2 linked regions of the Homo sapiens genome follow. The protein of the gene in region 1 purifies or fractionates together with the protein of each later gene. This does not show direct contact. Each region holds a gene or a part of one and is shown on either strand. Other genes may lie near its edges. The genes, in order: FERD3L and USP19.

Region 1 (9,981 bases):
GCCTTCATTACTCATACCATACAGAAATCATTTCTAGGTTGGTTACAGTTCTAAATGTTAAAGAAAAAACAGGCTTTTAGAAGAAAGCATAAAATAATATCTTCATGATGGTAAAATATGTTAAGATTTCTTAAACATGACATAAACAACACTAAGGAGTAAAAAAGCATGGTTTTGACTACACTAAAAATAAGAACTTCTTTTCATCTAAAGATATTAAATGATTCATACTTCCTGATTTCAAAATTTACTACAAAGCTACAGTAAACAAAACAATGAGATTCTTACATAAAGACAGGCAAATAAACCAATGAAATAGAATAGAATGCCCAGAAATAAACCCTCACATATATGGTCAAATGATTTTTGACAAGGATACCAAGATCATTCAATAGAGAAAAGATACTTTTTTGTTTTTGTTTTTTAACAAACGGCATCAGGAAAACTGAATATCCTCATGTAAAAGAATGAAGCTGGACCCTTACCTAACACCATATACAAAAACTAAGTTGAAACGGATCAAGGACCTAAACATAAGAACATAAGGCCTAAAACTAAAATCTCTTAGAAAAAAAGAAAAAGATTTACAACATAGGATTTGGCAGTGATTTCTTAGATATGATACCAAAGGCCCAAGCAAAAAGAAAATATAGACAAATTGGACTTCATGAAAATGTAAAACTTTTGCGCATCAAAAGACACCATTAATAGAGTAAAAAGACAACTTATAGAGTGAGAAAAGTATTTGCAAATCATGTATCTGATAAAAGATTGATATCCAGGATATATAGAGAACATTTTCACTTACATATACATAAAGAAACAATTATTATTTTTCTCAGAATACTTTTCAGATGTATACAAGGTTTCAAAATGTATAACACATAGAATGAGTCATAGAAAATTTTTATCCAGTAAAGTTCTTGGAAAAAAAAGACACAACCCAATTCAAAAATGAGTGGAAGACCTGAAGAGACATTTCTCAAAAAAAAGATATACAAATAGCCAACAGGCATATAAAAAGATCCTCAACATCACTAATCATTAGGGAAAAGCAAATCAAAGCTGTAATAGGATACAAACTCACACCCATAAAGGTGGCTACTATCTAAACAAACAAACATAAAACAAGTGTTGGTGAGGATATGGAGTAACGGGAGCCTTTGCACAGTGTTGGTGGGAATGTAAAATGGTAGAGCCACTGTGAAAAACAGTTCAGTGGTTCCTCAAAAAATTAAAACTAGACAGCAGCACAAATGAGCCTGAAGGACATTATGTTAAATGAAATAAATCAGGCACAGAAAAATACCACATGGTCTTATTCACATGTAGGTGCCAAAAATGTGGAGCTCATGAAGCAGATAATGGAATTGTGGGTTTTCAGAGTCTTGGAAGGGTAGTGGGAAGGGAGGATAGAAAGAGGTTGGTTAAAGAATACAAAATTATTTTTAAAATTAAAAACAGAGTTACCAAATTATTAGCAATTCCACTTCTGGGGACACATCCAAAAAAATTGAAAGCAGGGTCTCAAAATGATTTGTAGATATCCATGTTTATAGCAGCATTATTCACAATAACTAAAATCTGGAAGCAACCCAAGTGTCCATCATCAGAGGAATGGATAAACAAAGTGTGGCATATACATACAGTGGAATATCATTCAACCCTAAAAAGAAAGGAAATTCTAATGTGTGTTAAAATATAGATGGCTCTTTAGGACATTATGCTAAGTGAAATAAGCCAGTCACAAAAAGACAAATACTGTATAATTCCACTTGTATGAGCTACCCAGAGTAGTCAAATTTAAAGAGACGGAAAGTAGAATGGTGGTTGCCAGGGGCTGAGGAAAGGAGAGAACGAGGAGTTACTTTTTTAATGAATATGGAGTTTTCATTTTATAAAATTAAAAGAGTTCTTGAGATGGATGATGGTGATGCACAATATGATGAATGTATTTAATACCACCGAACTGTACACTTACAAATAGGTAAAGTGATAAATTTTATGTTATATGTATTTTACCGCCATAAAAATTGGAAAAAATATAAATGAATTTTTTCTTTTTTTTGAGACGGAGTCTCACTCTCACCTAGACTGGTGTGCAGTGGTGTGATCTCGGCTCACTGCAAGCTCCGCCTCCCAGGTTCACGCCATTCTCCTGCCTCAGCCTCACGAGTAGCTGGGACTACAGGCGCCCGCTACCATGCCAGGCTAATTTTTTTGTATTTTTAGTAGAGACGGAGTTTCACCGTGTTAGCCAGGATGGTCTCGATCCCTGACCTCGTGATCCGCCCGCCTCGGCCTCCCAAAGTGCTCGGTTTACAGGCGTGAGCCACCGCGCCCGGCCTGAAATTTTTAAATATACCATAAAGAGAGTCAAAAGGAAAGCCACAGAGTTGGGAGAAGATATTTACATTACATACGTCTGACATGGAACTTATACCCAGAATATTCGTACAAATCAATTTTTTAAATTAGAAAAATCCAATAAACAGTGGAGCAGTACTTTATTAAAGAGTCAGTAACTAATCGGCTAACAAGAAATGGTGCTCAATTTTACTTATCATCAGGGAAATGTAAATTAAAACTGAAATGTGATACCCATACACATCTTTAAAACAGCTTAAATTAAAAAGATAGAAAATGGCAAGTATTGGCGAGGATGTGAAGAAATTGGAACTCCAATATATCATTTGTGACAGTGTAAATTATTACAACCATTTTGGAAAACAATTTTATAGTAACCACTAAAACTGAACATATGCATAATCTATTCCAATTCCAGGTGTATCCCAAACAGGAAAGGATAAATGTACTCACAAAAAGATATGTACAATAACCTCTATGACACTGCTATTTGTAGTAACTAAAAATTGGAAACTATCCAAATGTCCACCAACAAGAAAAGGAAAGAACAAATAAATAGTGGTATATTTACACAGTGAAATATTATTCAACAATGAGAATATGCACAAATTGCATAAATAAAATATTGACTGAAAGACACAATAGTATACAGAATATAATTTATTTTTATAGATTATGCATATGCTCACTTTGTGAAACAGTCTCAAGCTATAAACTTAACTGTTCTTACATTACCTCAAACTTCAAAAAGGCATTCCATTTCTTGATTTGGGCACTGGTTTCATGGATACATTCACTTTGAAAATTCATGAAGCTGCATGTATATAATTTGCGAATTTTAAAGTACATACACTGAGCTTCAAAAAAGTTTACCTAAAATATGAAATGAAAAAAGCAAAATAAATGGATATATATTCTTCTATCTCTAAAACCAGCCGTGGTCACAACCATACATAATTTGAAATTGAATAGGAAGAAGACACTGGTCCCTTCTCCAGGTCAGCGGAAGGAGTACTTCTTATGCCTTTCTCCTACAATCATCACAGACATCTAGCTTCGTCATATCTTTATCATTTGCCCTAAAAGTTAATGTTTCTGGAATAAAAGAGGAAGGGACATGAGGAAGGAAAGGTAGGGTTTTTTTAATTGGGGGGATTTATATATTTGCTTTACTCCCTGGATGCTTTATTTATCTACCTTTCTCCCCTTTGCACCATTAAACCCAGGCTTCAGCTCATTCAAGAATTACTGCTTAAGTTATTCTTGGTCATTTTTTTTTCTTTTTGCTTTGATTCTGAACAGTTTAATAGTATAAACAAAATGTTTTATGTCTAATAGGAATGGTCAATAGAAATAAACTAGATAATCAAATAAGCAAAACTGATTGTCATTTCATAATCATTTCTTGAAATATTTTGAGTAAAATTTGTGAGGAGTTATCAAACTTTTTATAAATGCCTCCCTATAGGTCACTGAATAACTGTAAACTATAGGCCTAGAACACAGAGGAATCAAGGTTGAACTTAGCTTCTTTTAATCCTCAATTGAGTTTTTAAAAAACATCTCTCTCTTAACTTTCAAATCTAGAAATGAAAATAATGATTCCTTCCAATAGGATGAACTGTAACATCACTTGGTACTTTATAAATTTACTGCTTTTGCCATATATATTTACTGTGGAACCAAATACCCACAAAAGTCTTCTAAAAATAAAATGACCATTTCACAATAAGCAGAGAAAAAGAATTTCAGTTATTCCTATAATTAATTATAATTATAAATGAAATAACTGTAACTGTTAATTTATATAACTAATTATAATTATAAATAAAAACACTCATAACTTAGATTTTAACATTTTTTGCTTTAATTATATTAGCATGATTATAACCTTGTAAGATAAACAGAAATTAAGGTGGTATAAACAGAAGTGTTTATCCTGGGATTTTTATGATGAAATAAAAAAGAAAATATTTTAAAATAATTGCTGTAGGTGTACCTATTAGGACATTTAAAAAATTCCTAATACTTTAATACAAGTATTTCAACCCAGTTCTAGGCACTGGTTCCATTACTTTTGCTACAGTTCCTTTTGTGATATGATTATTGAAATCTCCATTCTCTGCCAGCTGCAGTGGCTCAGGCCAGTAATCTCAGCACTTTGGGAGGTCAAGGTGAGAGGACTGGTTGAGGCCTGAGCAAAATAGTTAGACCTCCTCTCTAAAGAACAAAACCTTTAGCTTGATGAGGTGGCCAGTGCCTGCAGTCCTAGGTACTCGGGAGGCTGAGGCAGGAGAGTTGCTTGGGCCCAGGAGTTTGAGGCACAGTAAGCTATGATTGTAGCACTGCGCTCCAGCCTCGATGACTGAGTGAGGCTCTGTTGAAAGAGAGAAGGAGGAAAGAAAAAGAAAGAAAGAAAGAAAGAGAGAAAGAAGAAAGAAAGAAAGAAAGAGAAAGAAAGAAGAAAGAAAGAAAAAGAAAGAAAGAAAGAAAGAAAGAAAGAAAGAAAGAAAGAAAGAAAGAAAGAAAGAAAGAAAGAAAGAAAAAGGAGTAAGGGGGAGGGAGGGAGAGAGGAAGGAAGGAAAGAAAGAAGGAAGGAAGGAAGGAAGGAAGGCAAGCAAGAAAGGTACATTGCCTTGGCTAAAATCATAAAGGAGTTCAGTCCAATGAAACTATCTCTTTAGTCTCATGAAGGCTTCTGACCCCCATTTTATGAAATTTTAAATTTAAATATCAACCATGTTTTCCTTCATTGTTTTCCAGTGTATTATATTGCGAAACTAGATTCTCAATTGACTGAGGTGTTTAATCCACTTGCAAATAGATTGTAAATGAATACAAAATAAGTCACTGAGAAGCATTTAACATAATTTAAAAATCAACAAGAAATTTGTCCAAATATTTAATAACATATTAATTTAAACGAGGGTTAGCAAGCATGTTACTACTTTTTTGAAACAAAAATCAGTTCTCCCATTTACTAGCTTCATAGCCACTGTTGACAATCCTATTATTTATTTTTCAGCCTTCCCTTTGAAAGATGCTTAGCAAAAATCAACTAAGTAACAACCAAAGATCTCATTCTCTTTAACATCTTCCAGGATCACAAATTTCAATTATTCTCTGCCTGAGTTATCACAATTCAAACTGGAGAATGAAGAGTAAACACAAGCAAAAGAAGATAAAATCTATTAAAAGATCGAGAGACACCAGACACAAATGGGTTAAAAGAAGAAGAAGAATTAAAGGTTATACTGTTTTGATTACACACATAGAGGCTAGGAAGAAGAAAATGAATTGAGATTACCTGTTAGAAATAGGCGGTTTCTGGTTTCTGGGAGCTGTCCAATGTACTGAGTGAACCATCATAACCACAACTTACCCCCTTAATAGGGACTGACGTCCTGGGCAGTTCTCTTTTGAACCGGGATGTTTCTACATTCATCTTTTTAGGCTATTTCTTCCAATCTACCTTTAAAATTATCTTCTAATCTGTCACTTTGACACAATGGGTCTTTTAAATAAATCTTTACACAGTACTGAATAATTAAGTAAATATAGTTATTGGCAAACAAAGAAAAAGAACCTTTTTGTTAAAATATTTGGGATACTCGAGATAATATAAAATGAGTAATCTCTTATTTTTCTTATGCCAAATTTAAAATCTCTTTCTTTTCTCAAAAATAACGATCTAACGATAGCCAAAAACTCCCTTAAATATATTTCAATAAATCATTGTTTCTGCACTTAAGTCTTACTGTAGGACAATACAAATCAATGAGGAAAATACGCCAGATGGAAGTGTTAGGTTTTTTTCTTTGTTCGGGAACAAATACTCGATCCGCAATTTAAAAGTCCGAAGACTCCTCAGCAGAGGGTGAGCTGATTGACTCTTTGGCTTATCAAGGGCAAATCGCATTTCTGAAAAGAGCTTGAAGTGGTTTTGTTTGTGAGGAGAGTTTGCTTTGTCCCCCACACTGAAAAGTATACAGCAAAGCCCGAGCATAGAAAATATCCTGAGCTTAAATTTCTCATTTTATTGCCATCATAACTTTTCCTCTTGGAATAAAATCCTCTATTTTATATGAGTAGGAGGTAAAGGTAGGGAAAGGAAAGTCAAGTATCTCAATTGTTACGCTGATTGCATCCAAACAGACTTTAGAAGTCAGGGTTTGTAACGTGGCAGGAGAGCTGTTTGCGATGCCCTGGAAAGAAAAGAAAGCCGGTTCCAACAGCGACTCTGGGGAATGCACTCTCGGTCCCCCTGCCATGCTTACTTAAGCTAATTGAAGGTCTTGCCTTTCAGCAGCCGCTGCACTGGGATACCAGACAAACAGCTCCCCTTGATGCCAGGCAGGCAGGGCCCCTCTTCAGGACATCATTAAAAGCACATGCACTTGCTCCACATCCATTGGCAGATGGTGGCAAGATTCAAGACTCCTACCCTGAAGTCAAGGAGAAGCCATCGCGGTGGAAAACATCCTCGCTTTGAAAATCCAACACGAAATTAAAGAACTACACGAGATAAGGAGCCTGGAGAACATTAGTTGGCTGCAGGGGTGAAGACAGACACAAAAAGCACAGCAGGTAAGAGCTGGGGGTTGTTGCCAACAAGGAACTGTCCCGGGTGGCGCAGAGAAAAGGATCTCAGAACTGGAGCCCTGTCCCTTTGAGTCTTCCATGCGTGCTCAAGCTTGTCATCTTCCATAAGCTTCGAGAGAAGGGACGTTGTCAGAGCATTCCTTATCGGTGCGACTAATCCTGTTATCAGCTTGGTTATAAATATTTAATGTTCCCTGGCCTTTCGGTGATGGTGCCCCATCAGATTCAAGGCTGTTAAGAATCCCCACCAGCAACCTCGCCCCTCCCTGCGGAAAACCGATGAGAGGCAGGGCCAAGCCGAAGCGATGGCGGCCTATCCGGAGAGCTGCGTGGACACTACGGTGCTGGACTTCGTCGCAGACCTGTCCCTGGCCTCCCCGAGACGCCCTCTCCTCTGCGACTTCGCACCCGGGGTCTCCTTGGGGGACCCAGCCCTTGCGCTCCGAGAGGGAAGACCCAGGAGGATGGCGCGGTTTGAAGAGGGGGACCCAGAAGAAGAGGAGTGCGAAGTGGACCAGGGGGACGGAGAAGAGGAGGAGGAAGAGGAGCGCGGAAGAGGTGTCTCCCTATTAGGCCGCCCCAAGAGGAAAAGGGTGATCACCTACGCCCAGCGCCAGGCCGCCAACATCCGCGAAAGGAAGCGGATGTTCAACCTCAACGAGGCCTTTGACCAGCTGCGGAGGAAGGTGCCCACGTTTGCTTACGAGAAAAGGCTGTCCCGGATCGAGACCCTCCGCCTGGCCATCGTCTATATCTCCTTCATGACCGAGCTCTTGGAGAGCTGTGAGAAGAAGGAAAGCGGCTGAGCCTGGTGTGGAGAGTCTGCCCTTCCTCGTCTGGTAGTGCTGGGGTGTGTCAGGACCGGGCACTGGGTGAGGCTAAAGGGCCGGGAGGGAGGCCCCAAGACAGAACGTCTGGTCTTCTGGAGGTCGGGGTCGAGATTGTAAGATCCCCACATGCGCTGAGCAGAGTGGCTGCTGTAGAGTTCATATCTACGCGACCGCCCTAAGTGAAGTCGGGGTCAGGGGCGAGCGGGGAAGTCAGAGAGCGTGAGGCTGAGTCGGGGCCGTTCAGGCTGCTCCTAAGAGCTTCCGTGGGCTGGGTGGGTGGGAAGTGAACCCTCCTCGCAAATGGCAGACTTTGGAGCTTCTATAAAATCTAACCTCTCTTCTTTACATTTTTTTTTTCATAGAGATAATAAAGTAGAAATTCTTACGTTTTTAAAAAGCCTGAAGGGTCGGTGGTACGCCATCCCCAGCAGGCGCTCCAGCGGGCGCCTGCGTGGAGGGTCTGAAGCAGACGCCGCAAGGGTGCGGGGGTGCGAGCTTTTCTGCTAGCCAGAGGGTTCTGCCTGGTCCTCCGAGGCTTGTCCAGGAACTGAGGAAAGGAAAAATGGAAGGCAGAGCAGTCGAGAGGAACTGCTGACAAAGTGCGACCTCTGAGAAGGGACACCCTTCCTGTCTTCCATTCCCTCTCCCTCCCGTCCCTTCCTCTCTCCCGCGCGCAAGCCCTCTCTCTTCCTTTCTCCCTCCCCTTCGCCACCTAGTTGATCCCAGACGGACCACAGCTCCTTGTCCCAGGGCCACAGTGGTGTTCATTCAGTGCCTTAGCCAGAGTGCAAATCTACGCTTTGCATCTAAAGTGCAGCATCAGCTTCCGTGTTCCAGTGCCTTCTTCAGGCCCCAGGCCAGAGTAAGGGGCGAGTGCACTCGGGTCACTCCTGGGCCGCAGGGGGCCTTGGGCGCCCTGCAGCTTCGCCACCAGCCACCGCTACCAACTGTCCCCGGCCAGGGGTTGGGGTATGAAGGGGCCTGGATCTTTCTAGGAGCAGGGCCGCCTGAGCGCGCTCACTTTTACATTTTTAGCTGTAGGTAGGAAAGATAGCTTTCACTCTAATGGCTTCTAGAGACTACCAGGGGAGACAAAAAGTCCAAAGAGGAGATGCCTTCTGACGCCTTGCAAAACGCCTGCCATGCAGATGAGGTTGAAGCGGGTCCATGCTGAGAGGCCGCCTCTAGTTTGGACCCGTGCCATTCCAGGATTCTTCCTTCTAGGTGACGTGCTAGTACCAGAACTGGGGTCTTTCAGAAAGGAGTGGGTAACTGAGGCGAGGAACCCGATTGAATAATGCCAACCTAAACATAAATTCAGTAATCCTAAAGGATAATCCCCAGTGATTATTCCAACACTTTATTTCGCCCCTCATTGCACACAGAAATAGGCGGGAGCCTGTGCGAACACACAATTCTCTTAATCATGCTTTCGGAAATAGAATTCATTTCATTAATAAGTAACATATACTCATCCTAGAAATTTTGGAAAAAAAAATTTCAAAAAAGAGAAAATTCGAATCACTCCACGTTACCATACTGTTAGCATTTTCATCTATTTCTTTCCAGTCTTTTTTTCCCTGTGCAGTTATAAATTCAATATATTTTACTAATTCGAGATACTTTGGGATACTGATATTTTTCCACTTGGCATTATAGAAGGTGCAATGTTTTCCCTTAACTTTAATATTATTCAAATGTGATTTTGATTACCATATCTTATTGTCTTATCCATGTATCACACCACCACCAGCCCTTTCCAGATAGATAGCTATTTCCTTTTTAAAAAATAAATGATGCTGCTAAGAGCATTCTTGTAAATGCCTTCTCTGTCTATTATTACTTCCTAACATTTGATACCTAGAAGTGAAATTTCTGGATTCAAGTTTGTGGATATAAATGGCCAGATTCCCTTCTTGGTGGGTTCTGCCAGTTCACTCTCCCACCCTCTAGCATTGCAGGGATTTGCCTGTTTCCCAGCCCCTTCATTAGTACTTCGAATATTTAAAACTTTTCTTAGTTTTCCTTTTCATAGGACCTGGATTAGTTCTGAAACGAGCCCCCACTCCCAAGATGTTTTTTTACTTTTACTGTGTCTTTCCACCAAGAATTTTTTCAACTGCACCGTAAGAACATCAGGATAAACAGGTAAACAAAAAAAAAATACATAAACAGCTAACAC
Region 2 (9,939 bases), on another chromosome or scaffold:
GGTTCAGAGGCTGAAGCTGGGTCGCAGCTCGACCGGGGCGCTGATCTGTGGTCAGTAACCCCGCGCTGCCATTTCAGGCCGGCTCGGGTCTCTAAACAGCCCCTTACCCGCCTCGACGTCCCTGGGGCATGGGGGAGGGACGCGACCTTCGGCTGGGGCCTGGGTGCAAGAAGGAGGCGCCGGTGGCAGGTGTCATTAAAGATCCAGCCCACCAGTACCACATCTGACCTGTAGAAGGGTATCCTGCCATCCCTCCTTCCTCCTTTACACACTTAGGGGAACACAGACTAGTCATTATCTGTCCTGCTACTGGTTCAGGCCAGGCTTGAGGCTGCCAGGAGTCCTGGATCTGTGGTCCTCCCCAGCCTCATCTCAGTATCTAGTTTCAAGACCTTCATTTTGGAGGAGGAAACAGTCCAGAATCCACTGGTGGGTCTGTGGGAAACTGTAGTGGTCCTTGTGGCTCAGAGCTCATGAGTGAAGGCATCTGGGAAGGAAGGTGATAATTTCTGTTCCAGTCTCAAACTGGATGCCCATCCTGCCTTAGTACTGGAGCAGGGTTGCTGCTGAAGAGGTAGCGTGACATCTAGATACACTTTTCAGTCCCTTTCTGCTTGGGACAGCAGCTGGGGAGAGGACTTTCTCTTGAAATGAAGAAGGACCAAGCAGTACATAGGAGCAGGTTCTTGCCAAGGGTGGGAGCTGGCAGGAGGCAGGTGGAGTGCCTTAGCCCCAGGACTTTTTCTGGGCAATGGTAGAACCTGGGTTGAGCCTGTTTACAGCCACAGAGCCTGGTTCTCCTGCGGCTTGTCTCCTGTCCTGCCTTCCTCCTCCACCTTCTATTTCTCCAGTGGTGACTAAGCAGCCAGTGAGAGTGAAGGAAAAGTGAGCACCCTGCTCGGAGTGCCAGCCCTGTGGGCTGGAGCCGTGGCTCCTCTCCAGATTGGTGGAGTAGCCTGGTCCCAGGCCATGACTTCCTTGACCTGGTGCCCCCTCAGTGAGGCTTTCACCTGTGTGGGACTGTTATGGTGGGTATCTATGAGGCTTGGCCAGAAGTGGTTGCTGCTACTTGCATTATTTATTACCTCTTCAGAATATCCTGAGAGTGTCCAGGGGTACTTAAGAGATGAGAAGATACAGCTCTGTAGCATTAGTGTCCTGTGTTGCTGAGCCCTGGGTGTAGCTAAAGAGCAAGTTGTTGGGTCTTGGCAGTGATCACTGGCTTCTTTCCATTAGGCTGTCCGTTCCTTGCTGGAGAATTTGGCCACAAAGAGTTGCCAAGATAGCTGGGCCAGGAAGAAAGCGCCGCAGCCCTGACCCAGACGCTGTTGCCGACCCCGGGGCACTCTGGCTGTCGACCAAGCGGCTCAAGATGTCTGGCGGGGCCAGTGCCACAGGCCCAAGGAGAGGGCCCCCAGGACTGGAGGACACCACTAGTAAGAAGAAGCAGAAGGATCGAGCAAACCAGGAGAGCAAGGATGGAGATCCTAGGAAAGGTGGGAGTGGCATTCCCAGAGTAATTGTGGCCTTCTCTGCCTCCCATCTTATTGGTATACAGATTGGGGTTTGGGAGATGACTTTCTTGTTCTTCTCTCTGTCCTGGTTTGATGATGAGAGAAGAAGGACCCATGATAACCTCAGTAGAGCCTCAGCTTTGAAGCCTGAGTACTTGGCTAAGATCCAGAAGATGGTGCTGTTGGGGGGCTTGCCTTCTTTCCTTTTTAAACTTTTTTCTTTTTTTTGAACCTGTTCTTTTTTTCCTTTTTTTTTTGAGATGGAGTCTCATTCTGTAGCCCAGGCTGGAGTGCAGTGGTGCAATATTGGCTCACTGCAACGTCCACCTCCTGGTTCAGGTGATTGTCCTGCCTCAGCCTCCCAAGTAGCTGGGATTACAGGTGCATGCCACCACGCAAGGCTAATTTTTTTTTTTTTTTTGAGACAATGTCTCACTCTGTCATCCAGGCTAGAGTGTAGTGGCGTCTTGGCTCACTGCGGGCTCTGCCTCCCGGGTTCAAGTGATTCTGCTGCCTCAGCCTCCCAAGTAGCCTCAGCCTCCCAAGTAGCTGGGATTACAGGTATGCACCACCACACTCAGCTAATTTTTGTATTTTTAGTAGAGACGGGGTTTCACCATGTTGGCCAGACTGGTCACAAACTCCTGACCTCAGGTGATCCACCCACCTCGGCCTCTCAAAGTGCTGGGATTGCAGGCGTGAACCACCGTGCCTGTCCCTTTTTTTTTTTTTTTTTTAAAGGCAGGGTCTCACTCTTGCACAGATTGGAGTGCAGTGCAGGTGTGATCGTAGCTTACTGCATCCTCAAAGTCCTGGGCTCAAGCAGTCCTCCTACCTCAGCCTCCTCACCATGCTTGACTAATTTTTCTTATTTTTTTTTTAGAGACAGGGTCTCGATATGTTGCCCAGGCTGGTCTTGAACCTCTGGCCTCAGGTGATCCTTCTGCCTCAGCCTCCCATGCAGCTGGGATCACAGGCTCACGCCACCGTACCCGGCTGTTCTTTCCTTCATCGTCAGGGTCAGCATCCACTCCTCAAGAGGAGCAGACCAAAGAGGGTCAGTAACGAATGGGCTTTTTGTTGCTAGGGAAGGGGAGGGGGCACTTGCAATTTGGCTCCCATCTGAAGCAGTTTCATTAGGCTGGGTCTCTGTTACCTGCTTATCACCATCAGGAGCTTGTGAAGACCCTCATGATCTCTTGGCTACTCCCACTCCAGAGTTGTTGCTCGATTGGAGGCAGAGTGCAGAAGAGGTGATTGTCAAGCTTCGTGTGGGAGTAGGTCCCCTGCAGCTGGAGGATGTAGATGCTGCTTTCACAGATACAGACTGTGTGGTGCGGTTTGCAGGTGTGTCCATCTGCCCTGAGCACAGTAGTATGTTTGAATCTTCTGATATCTCCTATCCTACCTCATGGACCCTGCTCTGTCCCCAGGTGGTCAGCAGTGGGGTGGTGTCTTCTATGCTGAGATAAAAAGCTCTTGTGCTAAAGTGCAAACCCGCAAGGGCAGTCTCCTGCACCTGACACTGCCCAAAAAGGTGCCTATGCTCACGTGGCCCTCCCTCCTGGTGAGTTCTAGTAGTACAGGGTTGGGTAGGGATACCAGTGTAGTCGACAGGGCCTGACTGCTGTATCTTTGGCAGAAGAAACCTCTAGGGACCCAGGAGCTGGTGCCGGGGCTGCGGTGCCAGGAGAATGGGCAGGAACTGTCTCCCATTGCCCTGGAGCCAGGCCCTGAGCCCCACCGGGCTAAGCAGGAGGCCCGGAACCAGAAGCGGGCCCAGGGCCGTGGTGAGGTAGGCGCAGGGGCTGGCCCCGGGGCCCAGGCAGGGCCCAGCGCCAAGAGGGCTGTGCATCTCTGCAGAGGGCCAGAGGGGGACGGGTCCAGGGATGACCCTGGACCCCGGGGTGATGCCCCACCCTTCGTGGCTGACCCAGCCACCCAGGTGAGAGCTGGGCACCTGTTTGGGTGTTAGGAGATGGGGGGAAAGGGTGTGCACTGGAGTGGGAGCCACCTGGCAGACCCAGGGCTGATTCTTTCCACAATCTTGCCATTAATAGGTTGAGGCTGATGAACAGCTTTGCATACCACCGCTGAACTCCCAAACCTGCCTCCTGGGCTCAGAGGAGAATTTAGCCCCTTTGGCAGGAGAGAAAGCAGTGCCTCCCGGGAATGACCCAGTCTCTCCAGCCATGGTCCGGAGCAGAAACCCTGGGAAAGATGACTGTGCCAAGGAGGAGATGGCAGTGGCAGCAGATGCTGCAACCTTGGTGGATGGTAAAGGTGGGGGTGGGCAGGCAGAGCCCTAGGTTGGGTTGCAAAGTTTGTAGGTGGATAGAGAGTAGCAATAGGCTGGAACCTGTCCTGGTTGGGGCTGAGCCATGGTCTCAATATAGAGCCCGAGTCGATGGTGAACCTGGCGTTTGTCAAGAATGACTCGTATGAGAAGGGCCCGGATTCAGTGGTGGTGCACGTGTACGTGAAGGAGATCTGCAGGGACACCTCAAGAGTACTTTTCCGTGAGCAGGACTTCACGCTCATCTTCCAGACCAGGTGGGTGGGTAGATGATGGGGCAAACAATGCCTCAGGTGGGACAGTATGTCTCATGCTCTTCCTCTTGTCCTTCCTCCTATCCTGCTGTGCCTCTGCAGGGATGGAAACTTCCTGAGGCTGCACCCGGGCTGTGGGCCCCACACCACCTTCCGTTGGCAGGTGAAGCTCAGGTGGGTGGTGCCCGGCCCCACCACTGTGCCTGTCCTACCCCGTGGGCTCCATCTCCCTGGCTCATCTATCCTGATGCTCATTCCTCCTAAGTCCCTGAGTTCAGCCTTTTCCCACAGGAATCTGATTGAGCCAGAGCAGTGCACCTTCTGTTTCACGGCTTCTCGCATCGACATCTGCCTTCGTAAGAGGCAGAGTCAGCGCTGGGGGGGCCTGGAGGCCCCGGCTGCACGAGGTCTGCACACGAGCTCCCTTCATTGCCCAGTTCCACGTGACCAGGACCCAAACCCCTGTCACATGCTGCTAACCACCAGCCCTCTCATTCCCCCTTTTTAAGGTGCAGTGGGTGGTGCAAAGGTTGCCGTGCCGACAGGTCCAACCCCTCTGGATTCAACCCCACCAGGAGGTGCTCCCCACCCCCTGACAGGCCAGGAGGAGGCCCGGGCTGTGGAGAAGGATAAATCCAAGGCACGATCTGAGGACACAGGGCTAGACAGTGTGGCAACCCGCACACCCATGGAGCATGTAACCCCAAAGCCAGAGACACACCTGGCCTCGGTGAGAATTCTGGGGTGGGAAGGACGAAGAATGGAGGCTGGAGAGTCTTGGGGCTGTTCTCTCATGTCGTCTTTGCTCCTGCAGCCCAAGCCTACATGCATGGTGCCTCCCATGCCCCACAGCCCAGTTAGTGGAGACAGCGTGGAGGAGGAGGAAGAGGAAGAGAAGAAGGTGTGTCTGCCAGGCTTCACTGGCCTTGTCAATTTAGGCAACACCTGCTTCATGAACAGCGTCATTCAGTCTCTGTCCAACACTCGGGAACTCCGGGACTTCTTCCATGGTGAGGGCAGGGCCTGGAGCCTGGGTTATGGGCAGAGAGAGTGCCTTTGTTCCTCACACCTTTGCTCGGCTACTATTCCTAGACCGCTCCTTTGAGGCTGAGATCAACTACAACAACCCACTAGGGACTGGTGGGCGTCTGGCCATTGGCTTTGCCGTGCTGCTTCGGGCGCTGTGGAAGGGCACCCACCATGCCTTCCAGCCTTCCAAGTTGAAGGTGATCTGTGACCACTGTCACCCTTGGCTGGAGGGGGCGGGGAGGGCCAGCCAGCTGGGTGTGCAGTGGGTGCTAGGGCTTCATGTTCACACCTTGGCTCCTGTATCCAGGCCATTGTGGCGAGTAAGGCCAGCCAGTTCACAGGCTATGCACAGCATGATGCCCAGGAGTTCATGGCTTTCCTGCTGGATGGGCTGCACGAGGACCTGAATCGCATTCAGAACAAGCCCTACACAGAGACCGTGGATTCAGATGGGCGGCCCGATGAGGTCAGGGTTAGGGACAGAGGGTGGGCATGTCTCATGAGCATCCCAGCCCCTGGTACTCTTTGGTTCTCACCACTCTGCCTCTCAGGTGGTAGCTGAGGAAGCATGGCAGCGGCACAAGATGAGGAATGACTCTTTCATCGTGGACCTATTTCAGGGGCAGTACAAGTCGAAGCTGGTGTGCCCTGTGTGTGCCAAGGTGTGATGGGCTCCCCTGGAAAGAGACCCCCTAGTTCAGCTCAGCTATTCTGGTCACATTAGGTTCAGAGGCATGTGCATCTTAAGGTGCTACAGGGCAAGGTTTGGGCAAAGAAGCTGGCAGGGAGGCCTTAGGATTCTATTTGGGCTGAAGAGCCCACTCAGGGTAGGCTTCCTGACTGAGGGAAAAGTGATGTTAGAGCTCAAAGGTGTTGTAGCAGGGTTGTGGGCACATGGGGTGCAAGTGTGAGGCCAATTCGTAAAGTGGCTAAGCTGAGTAGGGCTTTGAGTGCCAGAAAGAAGGATTGTTATTTCCTGGTGGTCCTCCTGCCCTGTCTAGTGTCCTGAAGCCTGAGAGTTTGCTGGTTGGCTGTGGGGGCCCTGAGAGCCATCAGAAGCCCCGGAATGGGCTCTCTGAGCATGAGCATCTTATCTCCCACTCTGTGTGCAGCTACCCAGTGCCACCTCTACATCCACAGGTCTCCATCACTTTTGACCCGTTTCTTTATCTGCCGGTGCCCTTGCCACAAAAGCAAAAGGTTCTCCCTGTCTTTTATTTTGCCCGAGAGCCCCACAGCAAGCCCATCAAGGTGAGGAGTAAGCCCCTACCCTCTGGGCTGTTCTAGAGAACGTGGCCCACCTCCCTCACTGACTGCCCTTTTTGCCACAGTTCCTGGTGAGCGTCAGCAAGGAGAACTCCACTGCGAGCGAAGTATTGGACTCCCTCTCTCAGAGTGTTCATGTGAAGCCTGAGAACCTGCGTTTGGCGGAGGTATCTTTGTCCTTCCTTGGGCTATCACATGTGTGGATGTGTGTGTGTACTCACCACAGACGTGTGTACAGTCATTGGCATCTACAGACATACACATGGGCTGGGCACAGTGGCTCATGCCTGTAGTCCCAGCACTTTGTGAGGCCGAGGTGGGCAGATCACTTGAGCCCAGGAGTTTGGGACCAGCCTGGGCAACTTGGTGAAACACTGTCTCTACAAGAAATAAAATTAGCTGGGCATGGTGGTACGTGTTATAGTCCCAGCTACTTGGGAGGCTGAGGCAAGAGGCTCACTTGAGCCCGGGATGTGGAGGTTGCAGTGAGCAGAGATTGCACCACAGCACTCCAGCCTGGGTGACAGAGTGAGACTCTGTCTCAAAAATAAATAAATAAATAGATAAAAAAATAAAAATAGGGCCAGGCGTGGTGGCTCATGCCTGTAATCCCAGCTCTTTGGGAGGCCAAGGCTGATGGATCACAAGGTCAGGAGATCCAGACCACCCTGGCTTACATGGTGAAACCCCACCTCTACTAAAAATACAGGAAAAGTTAGCCGGGCGTGGTGGCACATGTCTGTAGTCCCAGCTGCTCAGGAGGCTGAGGCAGGAGAATCGCTTGAACCTGGGAGGCAGAGGTTGCAGTGAGCCGAGATCGCGCCACTGCACTCCAGCCTGGGTGACAGAGTGAGACTCTGTCTCAAAAATAAAATAAAATAAAATAAAAATAGACATACACATGAGTATGCCTGTGACTGTACAAAAACAGGCGATGTGCTGTTATTTTTTCTGTGCAACAGAAGTGCCCTCAGTTCCTAGCCATTATCAGGGTTTATTCCCCTTTGTGGTGGTGGATCCCAACTGCATTTCCCTTTTTAGACAAGGAGCTTGAGCTGCAGGACTATCCCTATGTTCGCTCTGCCTCTCCCTCTATCCTGCTGCTCTCTCCTTTTATCCCAGTTGTGTGTGCTAGCTCTCCCCAGGGGTTCCTAGCCTTTAGCCTGACAGTGTTGGTTTTCTTAGGGGTAAGAGTGGGGAGGAGGCTCTTTGAATGTGGACCCTCCATGATAATATGTTACAGTCTTATAAGGCTATGCTAGTTATAGCAGGGCAGAGTCCCTCAGTGTGGAGAGCTGGTGTGGTTGATATCTGCCTCACACCTGGTCTTTCAGGCCCTCTGATGCACCAGGCTCCTTATGGCATTGGGCACTGAGACAGGTGCCAGCAGAGGCATAAGCCTATTTGGGCCTACAGACCTCACCACTGCCCACATAGACCCAAGGCAGGGCCAAGCCTTCTTAAACTCTGGGGCAGGGCTAGGGAAAGGGCTTATCCTCACGTGGGATCTGTGTGTTCTCTGTCCCCAGGTAATTAAGAATCGTTTTCATCGTGTGTTCCTACCCTCCCACTCACTGGACACTGTGTCCCCATCTGATACGCTCCTCTGCTTTGAGCTGCTATCCTCAGAGTTGGCTAAGGAGCGGGTAGTGGTGCTAGAGGTGCAACAGGTGAGTGGGGGCCAACCTGATGGCACAGCGCCCTGGTGGGTGGGGCACTTCTTCCTGGTCTTGCTGAGCCAGACGACCCACCCTAGCGCCCCCAGGTGCCCAGCGTCCCCATCTCCAAGTGTGCAGCCTGCCAGCGGAAGCAACAGTCGGAGGATGAAAAGCTGAAGCGCTGTACCCGGTGCTACCGTGTGGGCTACTGCAACCAGTGAGGACCCCCATGGTCTCCCCTACCCTTTCTTTCCACCTTCCATGTGCCACCCTGCTCCTTCCCTTCACACCAAGGCACATATGCTTAAGCTTTCTACTTGCCACCCTACTTTACCAGGCTCTGGGGGAGGCAGGGCTGGCGTACCCAGTTCCCAGGGACTATGACTAGCCCCCAGTATGGAGTCATAGGAGATGGGGCTAAGGGCCTATCCTTGTCTTCCTCTTCCCGTCAGGCTCTGCCAGAAAACCCACTGGCCTGACCACAAGGGCCTCTGCCGACCTGAGAACATTGGCTACCCCTTCCTGGTCAGTGTACCTGCCTCACGCCTCACTTATGCCCGCCTCGCTCAGTTGCTAGAGGGCTATGCCCGGTAAGTGCCCAGTGGTTGGACTAGAGTGGTGTAGGTGGGGGCAGAGGTGCTAGATGGGCTGGTCAGGAGTCTTACTTGCGTTGTTCTCTGTTGCCAGGTACTCTGTGAGTGTATTCCAGCCACCCTTTCAGCCAGGCCGCATGGCCTTGGAGTCTCAGAGCCCTGGCTGCACCACACTGCTCTCCACAGGTTCCCTGGAGGCTGGGGACAGCGAGAGAGACCCCATTCAGCCACCTGAGCTCCAGCTGGTGACCCCTATGGCTGAGGGGGACACAGGGCTTCCCCGGGTGTGGGCAGCCCCTGACCGGGGTCCTGTGCCCAGCACCAGTGGAATTTCTTCTGAGATGCTGGCCAGTGGGCCCATTGAGGTTGGCTCCTTGCCAGCTGGCGAGAGGGTGTCCCGACCCGAAGGTAAGATCCAGTGAAAGGCTCTAGAAGCTGGGGAGGAGGATAAGGGAGGATGGAGGGGGCTGTTGTTTAGGGCCTGGTGGGCCTGGTGAGGCCCTGATGGGCAGGGAAGCTTTGATTATCATGTTCTCACACAGCTGCTGTGCCTGGGTACCAGCATCCAAGTGAAGCTATGAATGCCCACACACCCCAGTTCTTCATCTATAAAATTGATTCATCCAACCGAGAGCAGCGGCTAGAGGACAAAGGTGTCTGAGGCTGTGGGTGGGAGCCATGGGGTGGGTTGAGCTGGCTGTTCTCCACAGCTGCATGACCTCTCTCCCTGCGAATCTCCAGGAGACACCCCACTGGAGCTGGGTGACGACTGTAGCCTGGCTCTCGTCTGGCGGAACAATGAGCGCTTGCAGGAGTTTGTGTTGGTAGCCTCCAAGGAGCTGGAATGTGCTGAGGATCCAGGCTCTGCCGGTGAGGCTGCCCGGGCCGGCCACTTCACCCTGGACCAGTGCCTCAACCTCTTCACACGGCCTGAGGTGCTGGCACCCGAGGAGGCCTGGTGAGAACAGAGCAGCAAGTAGATAAGGGGGCAGGATGGAGAAGAGAGAGACTTGCTGGTCCTGACCCAATCTCTGTCCCCACCAGGTACTGCCCACAGTGCAAACAGCACCGTGAGGCCTCCAAGCAGCTGTTGCTATGGCGCCTGCCAAATGTTCTCATCGTGCAGCTCAAGCGCTTCTCCTTTCGTAGTTTTATCTGGCGTGACAAGATCAATGACTTGGTGGAGTTCCCTGTTAGGTAAGCAGTGGACCTTGGTAACTGTGGGTGGGGTGTGAGGACCAGGATGGGCATCCTGAGCGCCTGTTGCCTGTCTCACCCCTCCCTGACTGGACCTGACCTGCAGGAACCTGGACCTGAGCAAGTTCTGCA

The links.
Region 2: the proteins of FERD3L (region 1) and USP19 purify together in Homo sapiens (affinity purification with mass spectrometry; 2 studies listed by BioGRID and IntAct, with this or other methods). This does not show direct contact.

The regions. Positions count from the first base shown.
Region 1 is NC_000007.14:19,142,656-19,152,636, reverse strand, and holds FERD3L (fer3-like protein), read left to right. Parts: upstream 1-7,215; 5' UTR 7,216-7,274; coding exon 7,275-7,775; 3' UTR 7,776-7,855; downstream 7,856-9,981. UniProt on the Homo sapiens protein: Transcription factor that binds to the E-box and functions as inhibitor of transcription. DNA binding requires dimerization with an E protein. Inhibits transcription activation by ASCL1/MASH1 by sequestering E proteins.
Region 2 is NC_000003.12:49,110,579-49,120,517, reverse strand, and holds part of USP19 (ubiquitin carboxyl-terminal hydrolase 19), read left to right. Parts: exon of another isoform or gene 1-50; intron 51-1,236; 5' UTR 1,237-1,372; coding exon 1,373-1,496; intron 1,497-2,397; coding exon 2,398-2,571; intron 2,572-2,687; coding exon 2,688-2,861; intron 2,862-2,947; coding exon 2,948-3,081; intron 3,082-3,156; coding exon 3,157-3,459; intron 3,460-3,574; coding exon 3,575-3,791; coding exon of another isoform or gene 3,792-3,797; intron 3,798-3,910; coding exon 3,911-4,067; intron 4,068-4,166; coding exon 4,167-4,238; intron 4,239-4,355; coding exon 4,356-4,471; intron 4,472-4,573; coding exon 4,574-4,794; intron 4,795-4,878; coding exon 4,879-5,074; intron 5,075-5,156; coding exon 5,157-5,290; intron 5,291-5,400; coding exon 5,401-5,559; intron 5,560-5,644; coding exon 5,645-5,755; intron 5,756-6,233; coding exon 6,234-6,344; intron 6,345-6,424; coding exon 6,425-6,526; intron 6,527-7,888; coding exon 7,889-8,029; intron 8,030-8,115; coding exon 8,116-8,234; intron 8,235-8,469; and 11 more. UniProt on the Homo sapiens protein: Deubiquitinating enzyme that regulates the degradation of various proteins by removing ubiquitin moieties, thereby preventing their proteasomal degradation. Stabilizes RNF123, which promotes CDKN1B degradation and contributes to cell proliferation.